Linked DNA regions of Homo sapiens. The protein of the gene in region 2 interacts with the protein of the main gene of each other region in a pairwise test. Each region holds a gene or a part of one and is shown on either strand. Other genes may lie near its edges. The genes, in order: GSTA1, RPAIN and CLNK.

The links.
Region 1: the proteins of RPAIN (region 2) and GSTA1 interact in a two-hybrid assay, tested with the Homo sapiens proteins (one large-scale study listed by BioGRID and IntAct).
Region 3: the proteins of RPAIN (region 2) and CLNK interact in a two-hybrid assay, tested with the Homo sapiens proteins (one large-scale study listed by BioGRID and IntAct).

What each region holds. Positions count from the first base shown.
Region 1 is NC_000006.12:52,797,205-52,800,859, reverse strand, and holds part of GSTA1 (glutathione S-transferase A1), read left to right. Parts: intron 1-1,562; 5' UTR 1,563-1,592; coding exon 1,593-1,679; intron 1,680-3,222; coding exon 3,223-3,274; intron 3,275-3,655. UniProt on the Homo sapiens protein: Glutathione S-transferase that catalyzes the nucleophilic attack of the sulfur atom of glutathione on the electrophilic groups of a wide range of exogenous and endogenous compounds.
Region 2 is NC_000017.11:5,423,180-5,426,834, forward strand, and holds part of RPAIN (RPA-interacting protein), read left to right. Parts: intron 1-2,791; coding exon 2,792-2,903; intron 2,904-2,957; coding exon of another isoform or gene 2,958-3,028; exon of another isoform or gene 3,029-3,050; intron 3,051-3,056; coding exon 3,057-3,120; intron 3,121-3,655. UniProt on the Homo sapiens protein: Mediates the import of RPA complex into the nucleus, possibly via some interaction with importin beta.
Region 3 is NC_000004.12:10,678,216-10,681,870, reverse strand, and holds part of CLNK (cytokine-dependent hematopoietic cell linker), read left to right. Parts: intron 1-3,655. UniProt on the Homo sapiens protein: An adapter protein which plays a role in the regulation of immunoreceptor signaling, including PLC-gamma-mediated B-cell antigen receptor (BCR) signaling and FC-epsilon R1-mediated mast cell degranulation.

The DNA.
Region 1 (3,655 bases), on a different chromosome or scaffold from region 2:
GGCAAGTATATTTTTGTTCCACACTCAACAACCACAAAACTTTGCAAGAAGAATCTTAATGTTAAATATCAGAGCTGGGGGTTTGGAGAGAAAACGCAACTGTTCCTAAGTCTTGGCACTGGAACTCCTGCTTTCAATGAGTCCTGTGCCCTTCCATTCACATTCATGATACAATTAGTTGCATCTGTCCCTGCAGCCACTGGTTTTCATTCTCTGATACTCTGCTATGTTCCACCTCCCAAACAGCCTGGGATAGAGCAAGGGCTATCAAACTTCACTGATGAGCCCAGTCAATTTCTCTCTAACCATTTACAATGAGCAAGTGAGCATGCACACGTGCAAACATCCGTACACACAATATACAAATAACTGAAACTAACAACTCATCAAACATTACTTACCTTTCAACATGTCATGCTCACTGACATTTTCTATTCTTTTCTATTTTATTTTTAAAAGTAATGGGCTTTCACAATCTACTGAAAGATTACCATGCATATTTCAGAAACACTAACATAGAAAATAAGACTCAGTCCTTGGTTTTTAACAGCAGTGAGTCTGCATCCCGATCCATCATTTACTCTGAGAAAGTTACTTTAAAAACCTCAGTATCCTCAAATGTAAAATGAGAATAACAACTGCATTCATCTTAGGTGATTTTTGTAGGATAAAACGAAGAGAAGTTTAGAAGAATGACCAGTGTGTAACTGATGTTGAACAAATGCTAGCTCCTTCCATATTGCAAAATTAATGCAGCAACATCTCTTCTTCCAGCTTATAAAACAAAATGCACCCCATAGAGTTAGAATACAGAATTACAAAAGCTGCAGGGATTAACAATCTCTGTCTGTTGATAGATTTTGGATCTTCTAGCTACAGTTAAACAAGTCTGAGGCCTAATTTCTGGTTTTGATCAAATGTAGTCTCACAGTCAAAGAGGTGAAGAGTGACTTAGCTCCCTGCCGGTCCTCCCTGTCAGTGACATCCTCTGGTTTCATGGCCAGTTCATGGGTTCCCAGGGCCTTCACCCAGCTGGCTTCCAGGAGTGACTTCATTTTAGTCCTTGGTGTAGATATTCATGTCCATCACCAACCGGAGTGTGACTGTGAACATTGTATTTCTCTGATGTTCCATTTCATTAACTAAAAAATTGAGATAACAATCATTTCACGGGACTATAAGGAGGGTTAAAGATATAAAATATTGAAAGGGACTAGCATTGAGGAAGGATCACTAGGAAGTTTTCAATAAATATTAGTTCTTGAATTCTTCCTCTTCCAATAACTCCTATACATGTATTTTTACCACATACTCTCACCTCTTATGCTGCCAAGAAAAGTCACAGTTAGCCAATGAAGACTTGAGACTGGTTTGCTGGAATCTGAGGGTGGCCACTGCTGGGTAACAATTTGAGCCAAGAAAACATTCCAGGAACTCCTCCAACACAGTCATGAAGAAGGAAGGTTCTTCTTCAGTATTGTTGGTGGTTTTCAACTACATATCCTAAAGTACATTTTTGATTCTATCGTTTCAATTATTCATTCATTCATTCATTCATTCAGGCTTAGAGAAACCTCCAGGAGACTGCTATCATGGCAGAGAAGCCCAAGCTCCACTACTTCAATGCACGGGGCAGAATGGAGTCCACCCGGTGGCTCCTGGCTGCAGCTGGAGTAGAGGTAGGTTCTGAGTTAGGTCATCTTAAGTTGGATTTAAAATTGTGTTATCACATACTTTTCCCACAGAAACTATGAGATGTTGCTTACTGAAGCATTGTGCCTTAAATAAAAATGGACTGTAATTAAGAAAAAGATGAACAGATTTGACCTATTAATTCTTAAAATTTCTTCTCATCTAAAAGCAAACATATTAAAATACAATTAAGACACTAATCACAAAGTGCAGAACTTAAGTGGATTAGAATTTAAACAAACTGTAAAGAATAATTTATAGCATTTATACAATTAGAAACATGAATATCGATTGAATATATGAAGACATGAAATAATTATTGTTAATATTTCATGTGTGATAATGTACTATGGCTGTCTTTAGAATAGTTAATGTGTTTTAGGAAAACACATTGAAGTATTTAAGGATTAATCATATGGATCTGGGATTTCCTTGGAATTATTACAAGAGGAGAAGTAGGTGGGCATATAGATGAAACCATATTGGTTTTGATTGATAATTATTGATTCTAGGTGAGAAGTATAAGGAGAATCATTATGCTTTTCTGTTTATATTTATTCATGTTCATAATTTCCACAATAAAAAAATAAAAATGCATAATATTAAAAAATGATTGTAATTAGAGGTAAAATGCAAACTACAAATGAGAGATGGAAGGGAGTGGATTGTAACAAACTACCTATTAAAGATTGACTACATTCACAGCAATTATTTACTTGAGCACTTATTAATTCCAGGTTCTGTACTCGGTCATGGAGATAGTGAACAAGACAGACACAGTCCCTGCCCTGGGGCAGCCTACGTGTCTATGAGGATGCAGAGAAATAAACACGTGGTTAAAATGAGGGGAGGAGGCTTCTAGAACACACAAGCATTCCCCAATGCCACAAAACCACATCAGAAACCAGAGGTTTTCCTTAAAAATAATGCTAGTGTGGGACCCTAATTCCTTTATTAAATTGAGAATTTTACCCTATTGTGCCTCGTACTTCAGAAGAGAAAATTACAGTTGCAAGTGTGAAAGCTGTGCAACAGTGGCGACCTATTTCACACTTAGCAGGGTTCCTGAGAAGTGGGGCGATACAAATTACAGCAGAGGCTCCTTGGTGGCAAAATGTTTGATAGCCATTAGCCCATGGCATGCCTCATGCTGGGGACACACAAGGTTGTGGTCTGATCTCACTTGGAGACACAGGCTTTCCTAAGATATGACAACACCATAACTAGAAGAACTGCTCAGTGCCTTTTCTCCAGTGATGTCCCCCTCAAAATATGACCTAATCATAGACATTCATATCAGGGTGGAGTTGAAGTGAACTAAAAGATTTAGCAGCTATGTGCTGTGACCCATGCACTTTTCTCAATGAATTAGGTCTAAATTTCCAAATGGCCATGACCAGCCCCCTCTGTGTACCCTGCCAAACTCAGAAATCTTGTATTCTCCAAATGATGCACCAGATGGGGCCATTCAAGGCCACAGTCTATAATAGAATGAACTAACAAGAACGTATTTACTGTTTCTGCTTCCAGTTTGAAGAGAAATTTATAAAATCTGCAGAAGATTTGGACAAGTTAAGAAATGGTAAGATCAATCTCTAAGTTCCTCTGATGAGGGTATCTAGTAGAAGGTACACGGGGAGGTTTGCGCAGCCGGCAATGTCTATGGGTGTGGGGCATGGTATTTGTACATGGTGCAGAGGGAGAAAGTGGTTAAAATGGAAGGGATGTGGCTCCTTGAGCAAGTCTGGCAACTCTCTCCAGGTTAAAAGGACCAGACCTCTCAGAGTATTTGCTAGAGGAACAATCTCCCACCGCTGAGAAAGCCCTTTCTTTGTTTTCATGCTTGGGGCACCATGAATGAGTGGTGGTCATCAGCACAGGATCCCATACAGCCCTCCCCATCCAAGCACATGCAAGAACATGCATTAGACAAAAGGAGGAGGAATAGATGTGGCCACTGTCT
Region 2 (3,655 bases):
CCCATGTTTCTTCTACCATCCTGCCTCTCTATTAATGGGTTAATAGTTCACTGAGGGTGGTGGCTTATGCCTGTAATCCCAGCATTTTGAGAGGCTGAGGCAGGAGTATTGCTTGAGGCCAGTTCAAGACCAGCATGGGCAACATAACAAGATCCTGTCTCTACAGAAGTAAAAAAAAAAAAAAAAAAATTATCTGGGTGTGGTAGCAAATACTTGTAGCCTCCCTCAGCCAGAAGGCTTAGGCAGGAGGATCACTTGAACCCAAGAGTTTAAGGTTACAGTGAGCTATAATTTTACCACCTCACTCCAGCCTGGCTGACAGAGGGAGACCCTGTCACTTTAAAAAATAAAATAAAAAAAAGTAAACCTGCCATTTTACAGGATACAGTGATAGTGCATGGTCTGATCCCTTGCCCTATTCATTTTAAGTGCCACATTCTCTATTAACTCCCCAGGGCCTGTGAGCATCCACTCCTTGAGGGAGGTGTCCATAGCATGGTGTAGAGAGCATAATTTTGTACCTTATATAGTTAAGTCATTTATTCCATGTAGCCCTGATTTGATTAGGCCTTGTTTGGTTTTTGTTTTTGTTTTTTTTGAGACAGGGTCTCTGCCCAGGCTGGAATGCAGTGGCGTGATCACGGCCCACTGCAGCCTTGACCTCCTGGGCTTAAGCGATCTTCCCACCTCAGCCTTCTGAATAGCTGGGATCATAGGCGTGTGCCACCACCCCTGGCTAATTTTTTTTTATTAATTTTTTTTTTTTAGCTAAAGATGATAAAAACAAGACAAAAAATTATTTTATTTATGTATTTTTTTTTTTTTTGAGATAGGTTCTTGCTCTGTTGCCCAGGCTGGAGTGCAGTGATGTAATCATGGCTCACTGTGGCTTCATCCTCCTAGGCTCAACCAATCCTCTCATCTCAGCCTCCCGAGTAGCTGGGACCGCAAGTGTGCACCACCATACCGAGCTAATTTTTTTATTTTTTTGTAGAGACAGGGTCTCACTGTGTTGCCCAGGCTGGTCTCGAACTCCTCCCTGGTCTCAAGTGATCCCCCCACCTCAGCCTCCTAAAGTTTTGAGATTACAGGCATGAGCCAAAATGCCTAGCCTAATTTTTTAAATTTTTTTGTAGAGGCAGGGTCTCACTATGTTGCCTAGGCTGGTCTCAAACAGCTGGACTCAAACCATCCTCCTACTTCAGCCTCCCAAAGTGTTGGGATTACAGACATGAGGCATGGCCCCCAGCCTTAGGCTTCATTTTTATGACCTATAAAATGGAGAGAATACCCTATAAATTTGTTGTAAGGCTTAAATAACGTGTGTAGAAGACTTAGTGCATTGTCTGGCATATAGAGAGCTTTCAATAATCAACAGCTATTATTATGGTGAGGCAAGAGCACAAGCTCTTGAGTCATACCTCTAACATTCACTTGGCTTTACTACTTTAATTTGTGTGGCACCGACCAAAGCACTTAATTTCCCCGTGCCTCAGTTTCTTCACCTTTGAAATAAGGATAATAATAGTGAAGAAGTTAATATATGTAAGGAATTTAAAATAGCATTTGACACATAAGTGCCATGCAAGTGTTAGTTGTTAATGACTGTTGCTGTCGACTCTGGTTAGACTGTAAATTCCTTAAGTTATCATCTTTTTTTATTGATTTTCCCTTCCCCCACCTACAAAACCTATCTTAGTGGTGAAACATAAGCCTGACCAAATGTTTTATTTTGGGGCATACTTAACTAATAAGTCTGAAGTGACAAGGATTTACTGTGTTGTGCTGTACTCAGCCATAAGGAACATTCTAAAGCAGAAGTTGGCAGACTTTTTGTGAAGAGCCAGATAGCAAATACTTTAGACTTCACAGACCATGTGGTCTCTGGCACAATTTCTCAGCTCTGCAGTTCTAGTGGAAAAGCAGTTATAGACACTACATAAACAAATAAGCGTGACTGTAGTTTTTTGACCCCTTCCCTAATGTCTAGACTGTGAGCTCAACAATGACAGTCTTTTTCATCTTTGTGCCCCTGTGACTAGCAGATACTAGGTACTGTTGTATGTTTGCTGAATGAATGAGCACACAGATTCTGAACAACACAGATTCCAAGTATGTGGAATCAGCAGGGTCGTCCTGGCATCAGAAATCAGTTCTCTCTTTTTTTTTTTTTTGACACAGAGTCTCGCTCTGTCACTCAGGCTGGAGTGCAGTGGCGCAATCTCGGATCACTGCAACCTCCGCCTCCTGGGTTCAAGTGATTCTTCTGCCTCAGCCTCCCGAGTAGCTGGGATTATAGACGTGCGCCACATGCCTGGCTAATTTTTTGTGTTTGTTAGTAGAGATGGGTTTCACCATGTTGGCCAGGCTGGTTTCGAACTCCTGACCTCGAGTGATCTGCCTGCCTCAGCCTCCCAAAGTGTTGGGATTACAGGTGTGAGTCACCGTGCCCGGCCAGCAATCAGTTCTCTTTGTCAACTTTATTTAGTTGCCTGTGGGACCCTGACATTCTGTATCTGTGCTCCTATGGCCTCTGGAGATGTGTGTGAAAATTGTCTCCTCGGCCCTTAGCCTACTTCACCTCTTGTGCTCACAAAAAGGGGACAGAGAGGAGGGAGAGGAATCCAGCAAGATGAAGCCAGCCTGAGAGAGCATAAAAACCAGTCATTGGTATTGTGGTCTTGCCCAAATCTTTCCCTCGTGTGAAGGAAGCCTTTGACAGTGAAGTTTAGAATTAAATACAGGGCCAGCTGAAGCATGGTGAAGCCCTCCAACTGCCTTTGCCTTGCAGAGCAGTCCATCATCAGCGAGTATGAGAAGAGCTTGCAGTTTGATGAAAAGTGTCTCAGCATCATGCTGGCTGAGTGGGAGGCAAACCCACTCATCTGTCCTGTATGTACAAAGTAAGAGTTTTTAAAACCTTTTCAGCATTATTCGTTCCCATTCCCCACTCCAAGGTGAGTGGAATCTCCCCCCAGATTTGTTGCCTGAAATTCAAGGTTTGGAGATCCAGGTCTGGTGGCCATGATGCTCTGGGATCCTAATTCTGCTTCTAGGTACAACCTGAGAATCACAAGCGGTGTGGTGGTGTGTCAGTGTGGCCTGTCCATCCCATCTCATGTGAGTGTTCCACACACAGATTTCATGATACTTCTTCCCACATGGATCTACTTTCTTGAAGATCCTCCAGTGCTGACTTGGAGCCCATTGTGCATATTTCTTCCCAGTTTTATGTTCAGTGGTGTCACATTGGTAGCTTCAAATCAGCCATGGTGAGAATATCTATGGCATGAAAATTGGCAAACAGTACACATCAGAGCCTTTAGGGCCCTGGAGAGCCATCACCGCTTAACGTTTTTATGGAGACCTCAGCTTGGGATTGGTAACGCCTGTATCTGACGTTTCATAAAAATTTTCTATATATGAAGACATACCTAATTCAGAATTTAAGCTTCAGTAATTTTTTTTTTTTTTTTTTTGAGACGGAGTCTCACTCTGTTGCCCAGGCTGGAGTACAGTGGCGTGATTTAGGCTCACTGCAACCTCTGCCTTGCGGGTTCAAGTCATTCTCCTGCCTCAGCCTCCCAAGTAGCTGGGATTACAGGTGCCTGCCACCACGCCCGGCTAATTTTTTTTTTATTTTTAGTAGAGATGG
Region 3 (3,655 bases), on a different chromosome or scaffold from region 2:
CAGGCAGGCTCCATGCATTGTCCATTTCATGCAATGAATAGGAGGATATGCCAGAAATGAGACCCAGGTCCACCCGAGCCCCGAGCTCCTGCTCTCGGCATGGTGCTCCATGAGTACCCTGCTGATGTTCCCAGGTTCATGATCAGGGCATCAATCACTGTCTTCCAAACTAGTCAACAGCATTTAAGGAACTCCCAGATACACCACAAGCATTAGCAAAATATGTATTTTAGTTGTTTCTTTTAAATTTCATTGGTGATACTAATTGAAACACTGCTTCCTAAACACTTATGCATGAGAATCAAAATCCTATTGTGTTTAAATGGTACTGTGGTTTGTCATTTGAACTAAGATGAGCCAAAAGGTCTAGATACAACATGAAAATTTAATATCCATGTGATTGGATGATAATCTTTAACAGTGGTAGGTTCTGTGTTCAATTTCGTGTAAGATAAAGATAAGGGCTGACTAATAGCCTAGGCCCAAACTCTGAGAGGGCTGAATTTTTGTGGACTGCCTAAGGACCACATTTCACCATCAGTTTTGAAGACCCAGAAAGCTAATTGTATCCAAGGCACACAGAGTTGATGGAGCTCAAGAGGTCAGTTCACTCTGGTACTTTGACCTATGTATCCATCTTTGGTGATTTTGTTCAAGTGTACTCAAATTATAAGTTCAGATGATTGGCATATTCCCTCCCAGGAGACAAATGTACACAGGAAACTAAATTGATATTGGGCAGTAGCTTGTTGAGCACTAAGTCAGAGCTGTGTAATTTCAAAAGCTGGATTTGCTGAGCTATGGGTGGTCTGATGCCTTGGCAGGCACCTGGAAAGCCAGTCTGCCCCATGGTTACCTGTAGAAATTTATATATATATATATATCAGGACGTCCTCACTCATGGGCAAGTCTAGGGATCTCCCGATCAGCTTTATCTGTCTGGACTCTTTACACAGGACACCTCCACACAGTCCCCATCCCAAACTCCTACTTCTGATACATGCTGTTTTCACTATACCACGCCATCCAGTCGTTGAGACATGGATAGTGTGGGTTTGAAATCAGTTACTTCCTAGCAATATGGTTTTAGACAAGTTATTTAACTCCTCAGAACCTCTGTTTATCCTTTATAAAATGGAATAAAAATATCTACTGCTCGAATTTGTGGTGAGAAATGAGATTCAGTACATAAAAATGCATATCATGGTGACTAGTAATTATTAAATACAAAGTAAATGGTAGTGGCTATTATCATCATTCTTAGCATTATTATTATGAGTTTATTTTATATTTAAACAAACCTTCCTTAGATTCTTGGCCTTTGTCCCTTTTTTGTCTTCTTTTTTAATTATTATTATACTTTAAGTTTTAGGGTACATGTGCACAACGTGCAGGTTTGTTACATATGTATACATGTGACATGTTGGTGTGCTGCACCCATTAACTCATCATTTAGCATTAGGTATACCTCCTAATGCTATCCCTCCCCCCTCCCCCCAACCCACCACAGGCCCCAGTGTGTGATGTTCCCCTTCCTGCGTCCATGTGTTCTCATTCTTCAATTCCCACCTATGAGTGAGAACATGCGGTGTTTGGTTTATTGTCCTTGCGATAGCTTGCTGAGAATGATGGTTTCCAGCTTCATCCATGTCCCTACAAAGGACATGAACTCATCATTTTTTATGGCTGCATAGTATTCCATGATGTATATCTGCCACATTTTCTTCATCCAGTCTATCATTGTTGGACATTTAGGTTGGTTCCGAGTCTTTGTTATTGTGAATAGTGCCGCAATAAACATACGTGTGCATGTGTCTTTATAGCAGCATGATTTATAATCCTTTGGGTATATATCCAGTAATGAGATGGCTGGGTCAAATGGTATTTCTAGTTCTAGATCCCTGAGGAATCACCACACTGACTTCCACAATAGTTGAACTAGTTTACAGTCCCACCAACAGTGTAAAAGTGTTCCTATTTCTCCACATCCTCTCCAGCACCTGTTGTTTCCTGACTTTTTAATGATCGCCATTCTAACTGGTGTGAGATGGTATCTCATTGTGGTTTTGATTTGCATTTCTCTGATGGCCAGTGATGATGAGCATATTTTCATGTGTTTTTTGGCTGCATAAATGTCTTCTTTTGAGAAGTGTCTGTTCATATCCTTTGCCCACTTTTTGATGGGGTTGTTTGTTTTTTTTCTTGTAAATTTGTTTGAGTTCATTGTAGATTCTGGATATTAGCCCTTTGTCAGATGAGTAGATTGCAAAAATTTTCTCCTATTCTGTAGGTTGCCTGTTCACTCTGATGGTAGTTTCTTTTGCAGTGCAGGAGCTCTTTAGTTTAATTAGATCCCATTTGTCAATTTTGGCTTTTGTTGCCATGCTTTTGATGTTTTAGACATGAAGTCCTTGCCCATGCCTATGTCCTGAATGGTATTGCCTAGGTTTTCTTCTAGGGTTTTTATGGTTTTAGGTCTAACATGTAAGTCTTTCATCCATCTTGAATTAATTTTTGTGTAAGGTGTAAGGAAGGGATCCAGTTTCAGCTTTCTACATATGGCTAGCCAGTTTTCCCAGCACCATTTATTAAATATGGAATCCTTTCCCCATTTCTTGTTTTTGTCAGGTTTGTCAAAGATCAGATAGTTGTAGATATGTGGCATTATTTCTGAGGGCTCTGTTCTGTTCCATTGGTCTATATCTCTGTTTTGGTACCAGTACCATGCTGTTTTGGTTGCTGCAGCCTTGTAGTATAGTTTGAAGTCAGGTAGTCTGATGCCTCCAGCTTTGTTCTTTAGGCTTAGGATTGAGTTGGCAATGCACGCTCTTGTTTGCTTCCATATGAACTTTAAAGTAGTTTTTTTTCCAATTCAGTGAAAAAAGTCATTGGTAGCTTGATGGGGATGGCATTGAATCTATAAATTACCTTGGGCAGTATGGCCATTTTCACGATATTGATTCCTCCTACCCATGAGCATGGAATGTTCTTCCATTTGTTTGTATACTCTTTTATTTCATTGAGCAGTGGTTTGTAGTTCTCCTTGAAGAGGTCCTTCACATCCCTTGTAAGTATTTTATTTTCTTTGAGGCAATTGTGAATGGGAGTTCACTCATGATTTGGCTCTCTGTTTGTCTGTTATTGGTGTATAAGAATGCTAGTGATTTTTGCACATTGATTTTGTATCCTGAGACTTTGCTGAAGTTGCCTATCAGCTTAAGGAGATTTTGGGCTGAGATGATGGGGTTTTCTAGATATTTGACCTGAAGAAGTTCTATTTTAAGGTGATTTCTACAGAAACTAATTTCATCATATTCTTATTTATTTTTTATTATTCATCTATCAAAGCCTTGGGTGTCTTACAATTCCTCAAATGTGCTAATCCTCTGAAAATATTAAGATTTAATGAAAAATAATAGAAATTATTTTGGAATACCTTCCTAGCCAAATTTCAAATCCTCAGAGTTTTTCACGGCACTGATGCAAAGAAATTACTCAGTAATTATCTGTGGAACTATTCTTGCATAGCGGTTTATACTTTACAGAGTGCTTTCACTTTCATCATCTTACTTGGTCTTCAAAATAATCCTATGAGCAAAGAAGGATGAGCACTCATAGCCTCATCTTTCAGATTAGAGAAGCTGAGACTCAAGTT